Linked DNA regions of Homo sapiens. The protein of the gene in region 3 purifies or fractionates together with the protein of the main gene of each other region. This does not show direct contact. Each region holds a gene or a part of one and is shown on either strand. Other genes may lie near its edges.

Evidence for each region. The genes of interacting proteins can lie anywhere in the genome.
Region 1: the proteins of SLC25A13 (region 3) and ELAVL1 fractionate together in Homo sapiens (co-fractionation; one large-scale study listed by BioGRID). This does not show direct contact.
Region 2: the proteins of SLC25A13 (region 3) and SLX4 purify together in Homo sapiens (co-immunoprecipitation; one large-scale study listed by IntAct). This does not show direct contact.
Region 4: the proteins of SLC25A13 (region 3) and HSDL2 purify together in Homo sapiens (affinity purification with mass spectrometry; one large-scale study listed by BioGRID and IntAct). This does not show direct contact.

The regions. Positions count from the first base shown.
Region 1 is NC_000019.10:7,958,073-7,960,641, forward strand, and holds the end of ELAVL1 (ELAV-like protein 1), read right to left. Parts: 3' UTR 501-2,569; downstream 1-500. UniProt on the Homo sapiens protein: RNA-binding protein that binds to the 3'-UTR region of mRNAs and increases their stability.
Region 2 is NC_000016.10:3,598,107-3,601,606, forward strand, and holds part of SLX4 (structure-specific endonuclease subunit SLX4), read right to left. Parts: intron 3,086-3,500; coding exon 2,873-3,085; intron 1,383-2,872; exon of another isoform or gene 55-1,382; coding exon of another isoform or gene 1-54. UniProt on the Homo sapiens protein: Regulatory subunit that interacts with and increases the activity of different structure-specific endonucleases.
Region 3 is NC_000007.14:96,312,099-96,315,598, forward strand, and holds part of SLC25A13 (electrogenic aspartate/glutamate antiporter SLC25A13, mitochondrial), read right to left. Parts: intron 1-3,500. UniProt on the Homo sapiens protein: Mitochondrial electrogenic aspartate/glutamate antiporter that favors efflux of aspartate and entry of glutamate and proton within the mitochondria as part of the malate-aspartate shuttle.
Region 4 is NC_000009.12:112,467,108-112,470,006, reverse strand, and holds part of HSDL2 (hydroxysteroid dehydrogenase-like protein 2), read right to left. Parts: intron 285-2,899; exon of another isoform or gene 170-284; intron 1-169. UniProt on the Homo sapiens protein: Has apparently no steroid dehydrogenase activity. Controls bile acid (BA) and lipid metabolism in response to nutritional cues.

The sequences.
Region 1 (2,569 bases), on a different chromosome or scaffold from region 3:
AGCCAGGGACTTTCCCCTGGGTGGCACGCTGGGGAGTGGTGTCAGAGCCAGGATTTGAACCTGGACTCTCTGACCTTGAGACCCCTAACCATTCCCATCCCAAAGGAGACAAAGGAGATCAGTCTCACGGAGGGGACACTGAGGATGGCCCCAGGGCTCGGGAGTGACTATGGTTCCACATACAGACGAGGGAAGAGGCAGGATCCCCGGGTCACTGTTGGGGGAGCACTGGTGTGGGAAGCAGATGGAGGGGGGCCATACCCAGGGGCCACTCGGTGGGCCCACTGACCTGTGAACCTGGAGAAGAGGGGCATCTGGGTGGGAGCTGAAGGGCCGTGGGTCAGCCAGCACAGGGCACACCCGAACTGGGTGTCCCCTCGTGGGCTCCCGGGACCTGGCACAGGCTTACCTCGGAGGGAAGAGGTCCCCATCCCCTGGCACTCTATTACTGGGCTGTGGGCTGCTCACAAGTCATACACCATCACCCCTACACCAGCACATCGCAATGATCCCACTTCATTTATTACCAAAATATCACAGAATTCCAGTCATAGTTAACATACAGCGTTTAACACGAACCTGATACCTGTAGAAAGAACTGAGTATCGGGACAATTGAGTCGTTGGAACTGTAAGCCACGCCCCAAACCGCATCACTCCGTACTTCAAAAATACGATTTTTTGAGAGCTTTGGAAACTGAATTAAAATGTCTACACAGCTATGAACAATTGTTTAATAAAACTTTTTCATGTTTCCATTACATGTAAATATATCAATTTGGCATCTCTATAAAAACTCTGAAAATGGTGCAAAAGTTTCATTCTCTTTGAGAAAGCCATTGACAAAAAATATTCACACTTCACTAAAATTTTGAAAAATGGTCTTCTTTCAAAGCTTCTTTATTAATCTGAAGTCTTCTGGGTTATCAAAATCTAGGTTTGCTTTTTCCTCCTAAAACACTAAAGAACATTTATTCACAAGGATTAAAAAAAAAAAATAAAAAGGCAATGGGCTGATGGAAAACTGATAAGGGCTTTTCTTTTTTTTTTTCTGAAAATAATTTAAAAAGCTTAAAAGTTACATAGGCATCTTCAAAAGAACACAATGGGATTCATTTTATTGTTGACTTTTGGACACCAGTGTCAGACTTTATTGAAAACAAACCCATGTAAAAACAAAGTTAAAATGAAAAATGGCACCTGAAAAATAAATTATTTTATATAAAACAAATCAATAACTTAAAACACACTAATATACAAAAGGTCTAACCATCTACTGTACAACATGGGAATCGGTTAAGAGAGCCTCCCCTCCCCCAAAGCAAGTCACTGTAAACGGAACATCACATGGTCATGGTCAAAGAGGTGGCCCCAAACCAACGGAAAAGGCTTCTCTTCTGGTGGAAGAAAAATCCAGTCCTGTCAAAGTCTCCGTTAGCCTAACTTAGGTACTGGCGGTGACTTACAAGTGAGAAAAAAAAAATTTGTTTTTTTAAATGGCCAAGAAAGAAACCTGAACGATGTCACTGAAAGGTTGTAGAAAAATAGGATCCAGCCATTAGAGGTCAGGGGAAATCAAAAAGGTTTGGAAATGTGAACCCTGCCTGGGATCCGAGATTCAGATTCTACTGCCATCATTACACGCCAATTGCCAATGCCACTTAAAAGAAAGCACTTGTGACTTCAGGGCTGTCTTGCGAAGTTTGGGGACAGGAACCCCTGACCCCCAGAGTCAGCTAAACCCCAGGGGTCTCTGCTAAGGAGCTGCCTCAGGTCCTAGTAGGTGAGGTAGGTCTGGGGAAGATGGGAGGGGATTGAGGTGGAGGGTGGGGTGGAGGGACAGGATAGAGGCCTCCTGTCAGCTGAATTCTTATTCTCTTTCATCCAACACAGGAAGGCTGCGAAAAGCACATGGAAATAAAAGGGGGCTGAATCGGATGTGAAATGTAACAGCTGAGTGATGTCAATTTCGATTTTTCAAGTCCGATGCCGGACTGGGTAAGTCATGTCTTTTCAATGCCTGGTGGACAAATGGCCTTCATTTGGAAGCAAACCGGGTCAAGGAATTGCCACTAACCGTCTTCGGGTGCTTCTATTTCTCTGATCCAGCAGGGACCCCTGGGCTGCCGGCTCCAAAGGGCCGGTCTTGGCTCCCAACAGCAGCACGGTTCAGTCCCTGGAGGCTGGGTCTCCAGGACTAAGGCCAAGCGCAGACTCTCAGAGGTTAAGGCAGCTGCCCTTGGCCAGGAAAAGGCTCACCTTCCAGGAGAAGGTGGCGGAACCCACCCAGCACCACCTGCGGGCGGGCCCCCGAGGAAGCCCATGAATTTCAGGATATTCACGCAGGATGGTGGCCGGGGAGGGGACTCAGCACCCGGGAGGGAATCAGTCACAGAGCTGCGACTAGAGGCACAGCCAGCACAGAAAACTGCGGCTTGGCAAATTACACTGAAAACGAAATAATGGCAGAGCCAAGGGGGAACAAGGGAGAATTCATCAGGAAGCAGGTTCACAAATTCGGAGCTGCCTGGGGTCTAACTACCAGAGGAAGTTACACACGGGTCAAAAGG
Region 2 (3,500 bases), on a different chromosome or scaffold from region 3:
GTGGACCTGCCAGGCAGATGCGTCCCCCACTTCCACTGCCTTGTGTGAACTCATTCAATTCCAGGCCAGAAGTTCAACATGGCCCAGGCACAGGAGGGTCTGGGTTCCTTCACGTGCTGCTGTCCAGCAGGCTCATGGCAGATGTACGGAGCCATCTGTGGTACCTGCACATCCTCATGTGGCCAAGCCCATCCAATGGAGTCAACAATCGATGGCTCTGAGCAGGCTCCCTGGACTCCCACCACCTTCACCCATCAATACTTCCGATGCTCCTTACACGGTCCTGGCCACACCGGCAGAAAAGGATCCCTTCCCTCCTGCAAGGGCTCCACGGCAGTGCCTCTGTCCATGGCCAGAAGGAAGGGCTTCCCAGCTTAGGCTGCCGATGGTCAACATTATACCAGCCGCCCCGGGACTCTGCACTTTCAACGGGCAGCAGCTCGTTTGGTTTGGAGGAAATGAACAGGAGTTTCCGGCTGGAGAGAACCTAGGCTGCCTGGGTGACTCCCAATAAGCTGGGCAAGAAGGAGGAGGGCAGAGGTGACAAAGGAACTTAGCACAAACCGGGCCCACCTTCCCTGCAATGCAGTCATGCCTCTGGCTTTTGCAAAAGCTCATGCTCTCCAGGGTGCCAGGGATGGCTCAAGTTCACCTTCCCAGGAACGTGGATAATCACAGCCTCCCAGAGGGAAAGGAGCTGCCTGGGCAGCCTGGGACCCTGCTTCTGTGAAGGGAACACAGACTGTGTTCCCTCCTCACTCCCCAGCAGGCCAGGTTTGGGCTGTGGGGAAAGAATATGAGGCACTCTGGCCGGGGCATGCGTTCTGATGACCACAGGCTTGGCCTTTGGGGAGGGAGGGGTTCAAAGACCCCATGAGGGCATCCAGCTCCTGTAGTTTTCTACTCTGACAACCTTCTAAACGGATCCACATACATCTAGTTTCAGTACTTGGAGGTATTCTAAAGGCAGACATACTTTATCTGAGCAGGTGCTTTTGGCGTGGTCCTGCCAAGAAAGAAACAATGGCTTAGATGACGTCTATTCTAAGGCCTCAAGGCTTGCACCCCTGCCATGCTAAATACAGATGCGCTCCTCCACCAAGAGAATCCCCTCTGCCCTCTGCCATCTCAGCCCCGAGCCAGCTCAGCTGCCCATGACCTGTGTGCAAAGCAGGGGGCGGGACAAACAGCTATCGCCTTTGGCCTTCCCTTTGCTCCTGACAGCGGTCTCAAACCTGGAGGAGTCAAAGGTCCAAGATGCCTTTGTTCACTATGAACCTGGTGTCAGCTCTAGCGTCCTCAGCAGCAGGGCAGCGTGGAGCAGGGCCAGCCCTCTGGCACTTGTGTGGCTGTGGTTTGCATGCTGAGGACTTGTTTCCTGGCTGTGAGCAAGGCAACTCATTTTAACTTTTAAGCATTAATTCATGCAAGATTTTTAAAAAATAGGGTCCTACACTTCTGTTGCACCAACTTTGTTGTTGTTTTTGTTTGTTTTATGAAGACAGGTTCTTGCCCTGTCGCCCAGGCTGGAGTGCAGTGGTGCAATCACAGCTCATTGCAACCTTGGCCTCCCAGGCTCAAGTGATCCTTCCGCCTCAGCCTCCCACGTAGCTGGGACTACAGGTGTGCAGCACCACAGCCAGCTAATTTTTTAATTTTTTGTAGTGATGGGTCTTGCTATGTAGTCCAGGCTGGCCTTGAACTCCTGGGCTCAAGTGATCCTTCCGCCCTGGCCTCCCAAAGTATTGAGATTACAGGTGTAAGCTACCGTGCCTGGCCAATCACCAAATCTGTGAACTGTGCTGAGTAATCTTATGTTAACAGTGTGAAAACTGGACTGTGCTGAGGTGGAAACCATGCTGTCCAACAACGAAATGGATGGAGTAAAGTGACTACCAAATTCTTAGATGTGGTAAAGCAGTAGTCCCCAACCTTTTTGGTACCAGGAACTGGTTTCATGGAAGACAATTTTTCCATGGGACAGGAGTAGGGGAATGGTTTCAGCATCAAAGCATTCCACCTCAGATCATCAGGCTTTAGATTTTCATAAGGAGAGCTCAACCTAGATTCCATGCATGTGCGGCTCACAACAGGGTTTGTGTTCCTGTGAGTCTAATGCCACCACTGATCTGACAGGAGGCGGAGCTCAGGCAGTAAAGCTTGCCTGCCCGCTGCTCACCTCCTGCTGTGTGGCCAGGTTCCTAACAGGCCACAGACCGGTACTGGTCCGAGGCTGGGGGGTTGGGGACCCCTGCACTAGAGGGTACCGACTGTGGGATCATGGGATTGGAAACTCAGGAAGGACCTTGAGGAAAACAGTGCGAAGATCATTTCTGCACCCCCCTAAAGGGGCAGGTCCAGAGCCTTCCAGAATGCAGATTCTGTCCCCTCCTCACTCCCTTCTAGACTGTGCCCGATTTCCGCCCTAAGTGTTTCATTTCCAGAATCAAAGAGGGCTCTTTTTCCCTCCAACACTATAAAAAGCTTTTTTTTTTTTTTTTTTTTTTTTTTTTTGGAGACAGGATCTCACTCTGTCCAGGCTGGAGTGCAGTGGTACGATCTTGGCTCACTGCAACCTCTACCTTCTGGGTTCAAGTGATTCTCCTGCCTCAGCCTCCCAAGTAGCTGGGACTACAGGCATGTGCCACCATGCTAATTTTTGTATTTTTAGTAGAGACGAGATTGTACCATGTCGGCCAGGCTGGTATCGAACTCCTGATCTAAGGTGATCTGCCCACCTTGGCCTCCCAAAGTGCTGCGATTACAGGTGTGAACTACTGCGTCCAGCCCATAAAAAGCTTTTTTAAATAGAAAAAGCCCTGAGTGCACACAGCATTATTTGGCTTGGTTTTCTTCCTTTTCGTCGACTTACCTGAACATGGGTGGGCTGCTGCTACCCTCAGGCTGTGCTGTCTGCAGCCGCACAGCCTGAAGCAGGAGCTGGGGGCCAACCTCCATCTTCACAGCACACTGCTTCAAGTGACTGGTTCTGCTCTTTAAGGTAAGAAACGGTTTCCCACAAATCGGGCACTCAGGGATCTGAGGCACAGAAGGTCTTAGTGTCTTTTCAGCTTCATCCAAGCACCTGAAGGAAAACAGTCAATACAGGAGAACCACCCTCCCCAGGAATGTGGATTGGAGCAAATGTGGGTCCAGGTCAACACAGACGTGCTGTGGTCAAAGCAAGTTCCCCAAAGCCAATCCCCTCTACACAGCCTGGCTCCGTCTCCCGGCAGTCAGCCCCTAGACACTACACTTAGGTATCTGTCAGCAAAGTTGGCTAAAGAAAGCAAGGAAAGATTAAATGCAGTTACATGATGACTTAGAAATTCCACTCCTAAGTAGAGACCCCAAAGAACTGAAAGCAGGTACCCAAACAAATACATGAAACCCATGTTCACGGCAGCTCTATCCACAATCCCAAAGGGTAGAAATGCTCCAAATGTCCGCCAATGGACGAAAGGATAAACCATGGTCATATTCCTCATCTAAGAATGGGA
Region 3 (3,500 bases):
TGCATAGCAAGATAAATTAAAGAGGGCAATGCAGCACACTGGTTATGTGCTTGGGCTCTGGAGCCAGGCTGCCTGTGTTGAAATCATAGCTCTCCTATTTACAAGCCATGTGATCTTGGGCAAGTTATGTAATCTCTCTGTACCTCAAAGAACTTAACTACTCTGTACAAATGAGTTTCTCGATGTATATTATGAAGGTGAGAGCACTTACATGTCATAGGATTGTTATGAAGATTGCATTAGTAGATATAAAGTGCTTGGAACAGTGTCCGGCTTTTACAAGTGTTATATAAACATATGCTAATATTATTATTATTATTTGCATAACCTTTTTGAGCCTTAGGTTTCTTTATCTGACAAATGAGGTTATCAACACGTTCCCTGCTACCTTGTAGATGATTATAAAGATCAAATAATGAAGCTTGGGTCTTTATATTATCTGGTTATATTAATCCCTGAAGACTTTGAGCTTCTTGAAAACAAATCTAGTAGCTTACCTGTTTTTGGAATCCCAGCACAGTGTAGGCACTGACAAACAGTCGTCGTCACTTATGCCCTTGAATGCACTTTTTAAAGCTGCTAAGTACTGTACCCATGAACACGGTAGTGCTATTATCATGGCAACAAGAGCCAATCTTAGAAAAGTCCTTTGGCAGTCTGGACAGAATGGAGAGGAAGGTGTAGGGATGAGATCAAAAGCAAGGGGATCAGTGGGAGCTACAGCAATGGTACAGCTACAAAATAAAGAGGCCCTGAATTTGAACAGAGAAGATAGGACATACATGCTCCATGGCCGTAGAAGGGTTTCACTGATCCACCTCTTTTGCCACATCCAATTCAGGCTGATGGTGTCTCTCCTATCTGCCCATAACAGGTACTTAATTGAACTAACTAGAAACTTTATCAGGAAAGTGAAGCTGCAGGATGAAGTCAGGAATGACCAAAAAGATGGATTCAGTTATAAGAACTGGTGAGTTCTAGGTCAGCAGAGTTTGAAATATCTTTGAGACAGACAAGTTGAGTCTTCCAGCTCAAACTAAACAGCTAAAAGTGCAGGGCTAGAGCTTGAGACAGCCACCCAGGCTGAGGAGTGTTAAGGAGCCAATACCCATTAAGGGGGCAGGTAGTGCGGCAGGAACTGGAGGGAGGAGACAATCTCAGGCACAGCCTTGGGGGACACTAACCTTCCAGGTGTCCAGGCAGAATGAAGAGAAGCCCACAAGGCACAGCACTATTCACAGTAGCAAAGACAGGAAACCAACCTAGGTGCCCATCAATGGTGAATTGCATAAAGAAAATGTGGTATATATCCACCGTGGAATACCTTGCAGATATAAAAAGAACAAAATCATGTCCTTTGCAACAACATGGATGCAGCTGGAGGCTATGATCCTAAGTGAATTAATGCAGGAACAGAAAACCAAATATCACATGTTCTCACTTATAAGTGGGAGCTAAACAATGGGTACTCATGGACATAAAGATGGCAACAATAGACACTGGGGACTACTAGAGGGAGGAGGGAGGGGAACAAGGGTTGAAAAACTAATTATTGGGTACTATGCTCAGTACCTGGGTGATGGGGTCAACTGTACCCCAAGCCTCAGCATCATGCAATATATCCAGGTAACAAATCTGTACATGTACCTCCGGAATCTAAAATAAAAGTTGAAATTATTTTTTAAAATGTACATTTAAAAAAAAAGAAAGTAAGACCCTTTGTTAGATTCAGAAAAAGTGAAAGATTTCTAGATTTTTGCTAAAGTAATGCTTCTCAAAAGGTGCAGCATTAGTGCTGGACCTACATATACCTGACCTGTACAGGGAAGGGAAAAACACTACATTTTTGGCCAAAATTCCTCATTGGTAAACTAGTACATTCTGTTTTGAAGATTAGGGTAAAGTGTACTATCATTCTATATGCATATGTCATGCTGCTAAACACTAAAATAAAAATATATCTTTGCTGGGAAGAAAGAAGACGAAAGAAGAAAGAAGAAGGAAGGAGAAGGAGGAGGAAGAAGGAGGAAGGAAGGAGGAGAAAGGATGAAGGACGAAGAAGAAGGAAGAAGAAGAAGAAGCCTGCAAAGGAGAATAAAGGGGTAATATGAGATGCTAGAGGCCAATAATGAGAGGGGACATCATGAAAGCAGATGGCGAGAAAGAAAGGGTAGGACACAGGGTCATGTGAGGCCAGAAATGAGGACAAGCCAACAGGTTTAGAACTGAGGTTACTGGTGACTTTTAGGAGAAGGACATTTAATTTAGTTCATTTCACCCAATTAGAGGGTCTGTCTGGTTAAACAGGCCATGAAAATAGAGTTTGCTCAGTAGCTGTTAAATACTTTGCTAAAGGAATTGTATCACTACACAAAGGCATATCCCCCTCCTTACCTCCAAGCAGAACCAACACATGTCTCAGCGTCACACATTCCTCTGTTGCAAGGTCCACCCTAAGGCAAACCCACAGAGTCTTATGAGGAAATCTGTAGGTGTTTATGAGGCAGCAAATGCCAACCAGAGAGGAGGAAGCGCTCAGCAGGAATGCCATAATAGATAATCCTCACACATAGTGGAGAACAAAGGGAGGAATGGTTCCCTCTAAGAATTCATCAAAAGCAGAGACTGGTCATGGGACTAAAGGTCTAAGAGACCAAAGCACAGAGGAGTCAGAGCTCCTCGGACAATCTTCTAAAAGAACTCAATATCCAAAAAAGACCTGCTCCCTGACTTTTTTACGCTACATATCACCTTTCAACTCTCCCCACACCTTTCCAACCCTCTATTTGCTGTGAAGCCATATGACCTAAGCCAGGGAACACTGGCACCACATGGCCCTGGATGAGGTTAGCCCAGGAGAGGGCTCTGAGACCAGGTTTGCTCTTTGTAATGCTTCCCTCCTCCAGCACCTTCTCTGATCACAAAAAACCACTGAGACTCTGCAGGAGACAAATGGAGCTTTCAGTCAAGTTTGGGATTAAAACCTCTATTCCAGGATTATCACAAAACTGTATAAACTTGATGCCTAAGCACCCTGGAGACACCAGGCAGGACTAAGACAAAGCTGTCAAGAAAGAAGAGAAATTTGGAGAAACCCCTACATACCCCTCCTTTGAACTGACACACCAGGGACTTTAACTTAATCTCACTGCATTCCATTCTTACTCCAAGAAGGAGCCAGCAGGTCTCTTGAAGCAATGTGCACCAAAATAACAGTGGTTGTCAAGCTTTCAAAAATCCTGAGGCTCAGGCCACACCCAAGTCCAATTCAATCATGATCTCTGGAGGGAGACCCAGGCATCAGCAGTTTTTTATACCAGTCCAGAAGACTTCAGTATGTAGGGAATCACTGGCCTAGAGCAGTGCCAAAAGCAAAGGCATTCATGGGAATTTGGACCAATAACAAATGTTTCTGGGACTCCATTTCTAGGACTCTCCTGGTAAAAGGGGACAGGACTGAGGAAGGAAAGAGTAAAGATCATTGTGTTAACATAAATTCC
Region 4 (2,899 bases), on a different chromosome or scaffold from region 3:
AAAGTATAGTGTATGGACACAAAATATGTGTTAGCATTACTTTAACCACAGAAATGCCAGGGTATAAAAAAATGTAAGCATTAAAATAGAATTGTACCTAATAACAACATGTAATAAATATGAGCTCCATGGAGAGAAGTACATTTGTTATCTGCTACTCTTATTCCAGTGTCAGTACGGGGTCTATCACATAGTGGAATTAATGAGGAAACAGACTCAAAAAGGATTTTGGCTTGCTCAAGGTCACACAGCTTGTATGAGGCAGTGCTGCAATTTAAAGCCAGGTATGTCTGCCTTTCATTTATGACTTTTTTTCCTTTTTTTTTTTTTTTTTTTTTTTGAGACAAGGTCTCACTCTGTCTCCCAGGCTGGAGTACATGTACAGTGGAGTACATGGCTTACTGCAGCCTTGACTTCCCAGGCTCATCTGAACCTCCCACCTCAGCCTCCTGAGTAGCTGGACTACAGGCAAGCAACACCATGCAGGGCTAATTTTTTATAGAGATGGGGTTTTGCCATGTTGCCCAGGCTGGTCTCAAGTGATCCACCTGCCTCCCAGAGTGCTGAGATTACAGATGTGAGCCATCTGGCCCAGCCTCATTTATGATTTTCTGTCTTACATTATGCTAATTGATATAGATGACATATCTTCTAGAAGGCACAATATGTGTTTGGTTTATTAGTAGCTTAGTAGCCACCCTCCCCACCCCTGTGCCCCACACAGGTTCTTTGCAGAGAAAGTGTGTGAGTTAATATATTATATATATATTATATTAAGCTATTAAATGCCTTTAAATTATTCTAAATAGAGGTTATAGCAAAGCCTCATGGAGTTATTATAGGTAGAAAGGATCAAGTCCAACTCTTTTATTTTAATGAATAAACTGAGCTGTGTCCTACTTTAAGACAGTGTGATGTTAAAATCCCAATACTTACAAATAATAAATGAAGGGGTAACTTTTATTTACATGGAGGATACTGAAAGATCTTTATTCTGGAAGGAACAGAACAGCCCGTCCAAAAACACAGATACAGACATCTGGGTGTCCTTCAGCTAAATCAACTGGATCATGCTCTGTTATTCTACAGTGAAGCCTACCATTCCACCCACCCCACTCACACACATCTTCCAATGAGCTTTGCAGAGCCTTGCCCATAGAGATGAATGGACATCAAATATAACCAAAACCAAAACACAGATAAGAGCAACTTGGAGGAAACAGAATGCTGGCTCAGACAAAAGATAACTAAAGTAGAGTAAATGGAGAACAAATTAAAAATTCCACAATCTCTGCCCTCAGAGATAAAAGAAAATAATACAGCAAGGGATGGGGAACAGGATGCAGGTGGAGAAAGAGGGAAGAGGAGGAGCACAGGAAGGAGAGAGGAGAAGAAGAGGGGATGAAGGAGAGGGAGAGAGGAGAAAAAGGGAAAGGGGGAAAGGCAGTGATGCCAGGGAAGGAGAGGGGATGGGTTGGATTGAGGAGGAGGAAGAAAAACCATCAGAAAACAAGATGAGCTCTTAGAAAGTAAAATTTTAGTCAACAAAATTAAAATGCAATAGAAAGGTAGGAAAAAGAAGGTGAGTCGATCTCCTAGAAGGTGAAAAGAATTATACAAATATATGTGTAATAGGAGAAATGAGTGATTAAATCAGATGATCTTTTTCTCCAGAAAGTCAGAAGAGAGAAAACTGAGAGAACTATCAAAGAAATAATATAAGAACTTTTCAAGGGGCTGGGAAAATGACATTTACCTTTTATCACTGTGAAATATCAGACTACCACAGAGAAATATGTCTCTGATTTCAAAAACTTTCAGAAAGGACAGGGGTAGATAGAAAAGATTAAGACGAACAACATCAAATTCTCAACGATAATCTTAAGATGATAAAGCAATGGCTTCAAAATTCTGAGGGAAAATGAATTGCAACCTGGAAATCTCTACCCAGACAAACAATCAAGAGAGTTGGTAGAATAATAGTAGTTTCAGATACACACAAAAATTATCTCTAATGTATCCTTTCTCATGAAACTACTGGACAATGTGTGCCACCAAATTGAAGATGTAAAGGAAGAAAGAAGACATGGGATCCAGGAAACAGGAGATTCAGTGCAGGAGAGAGTTAAATTTCTAGGACAACAGCTGTGTAGCAGGCTTAATGAGCTTCAGGTCTAGATTATAACATGAAGACAAAGGGCTCCGGGGAAAAAGTGGACTGACACAAGCTGATACATTTGACAACGTAGAAAACTGCATCAAGAAGCTGTGGGAAGAGTACAGGAAGACTTTGCTTAGTGTCATGGACTGAATGTTGGCATTCCCCACAAACTTCATATCTTGAAGCTCTTGCCCTCAGTGTGATGGTCTCAGGAAGTGGGGCCTTGGGAAAATAATTTGGTTTAGGTGAAATCATGAGGATGGAGCCGGAATGATGGGATTAGTGCCCTTATAAGAAAAGGAAGAGAAACAATTTAGTGGCATTTAAGTCCAGGTACAATGTTGTGTACCACCACGCAACACGTGGTATCTATCTAGTTTCAACCATTTTCATCATCCCAAAATGAAACCCTCAGGGATTCAGCATTAGCAGCTCCCCCTGCCTCCAGACTCTGGCAACCACCAACAGCTCTCTGTGTCTATGGATGCACCTATTCTAGATATTTAATATAAAAGGATTTCTACAATATGTGATCTTTGGTGTCTGGCTTTTTTCATTTAGCATAATGTCCCATGGTGTAGCATGTATTAGTACTTCATTCCTTTTTATGGCTGACTGCTATTTCATTATATGTATATACCACACTTTGTTTATCCATGCATCCCTTAATGGACATTTAGGTTGTTTCTGTCTTTTGCCTATTGTGAATAGCGCTGCTGTGAATATGCATGTACATTT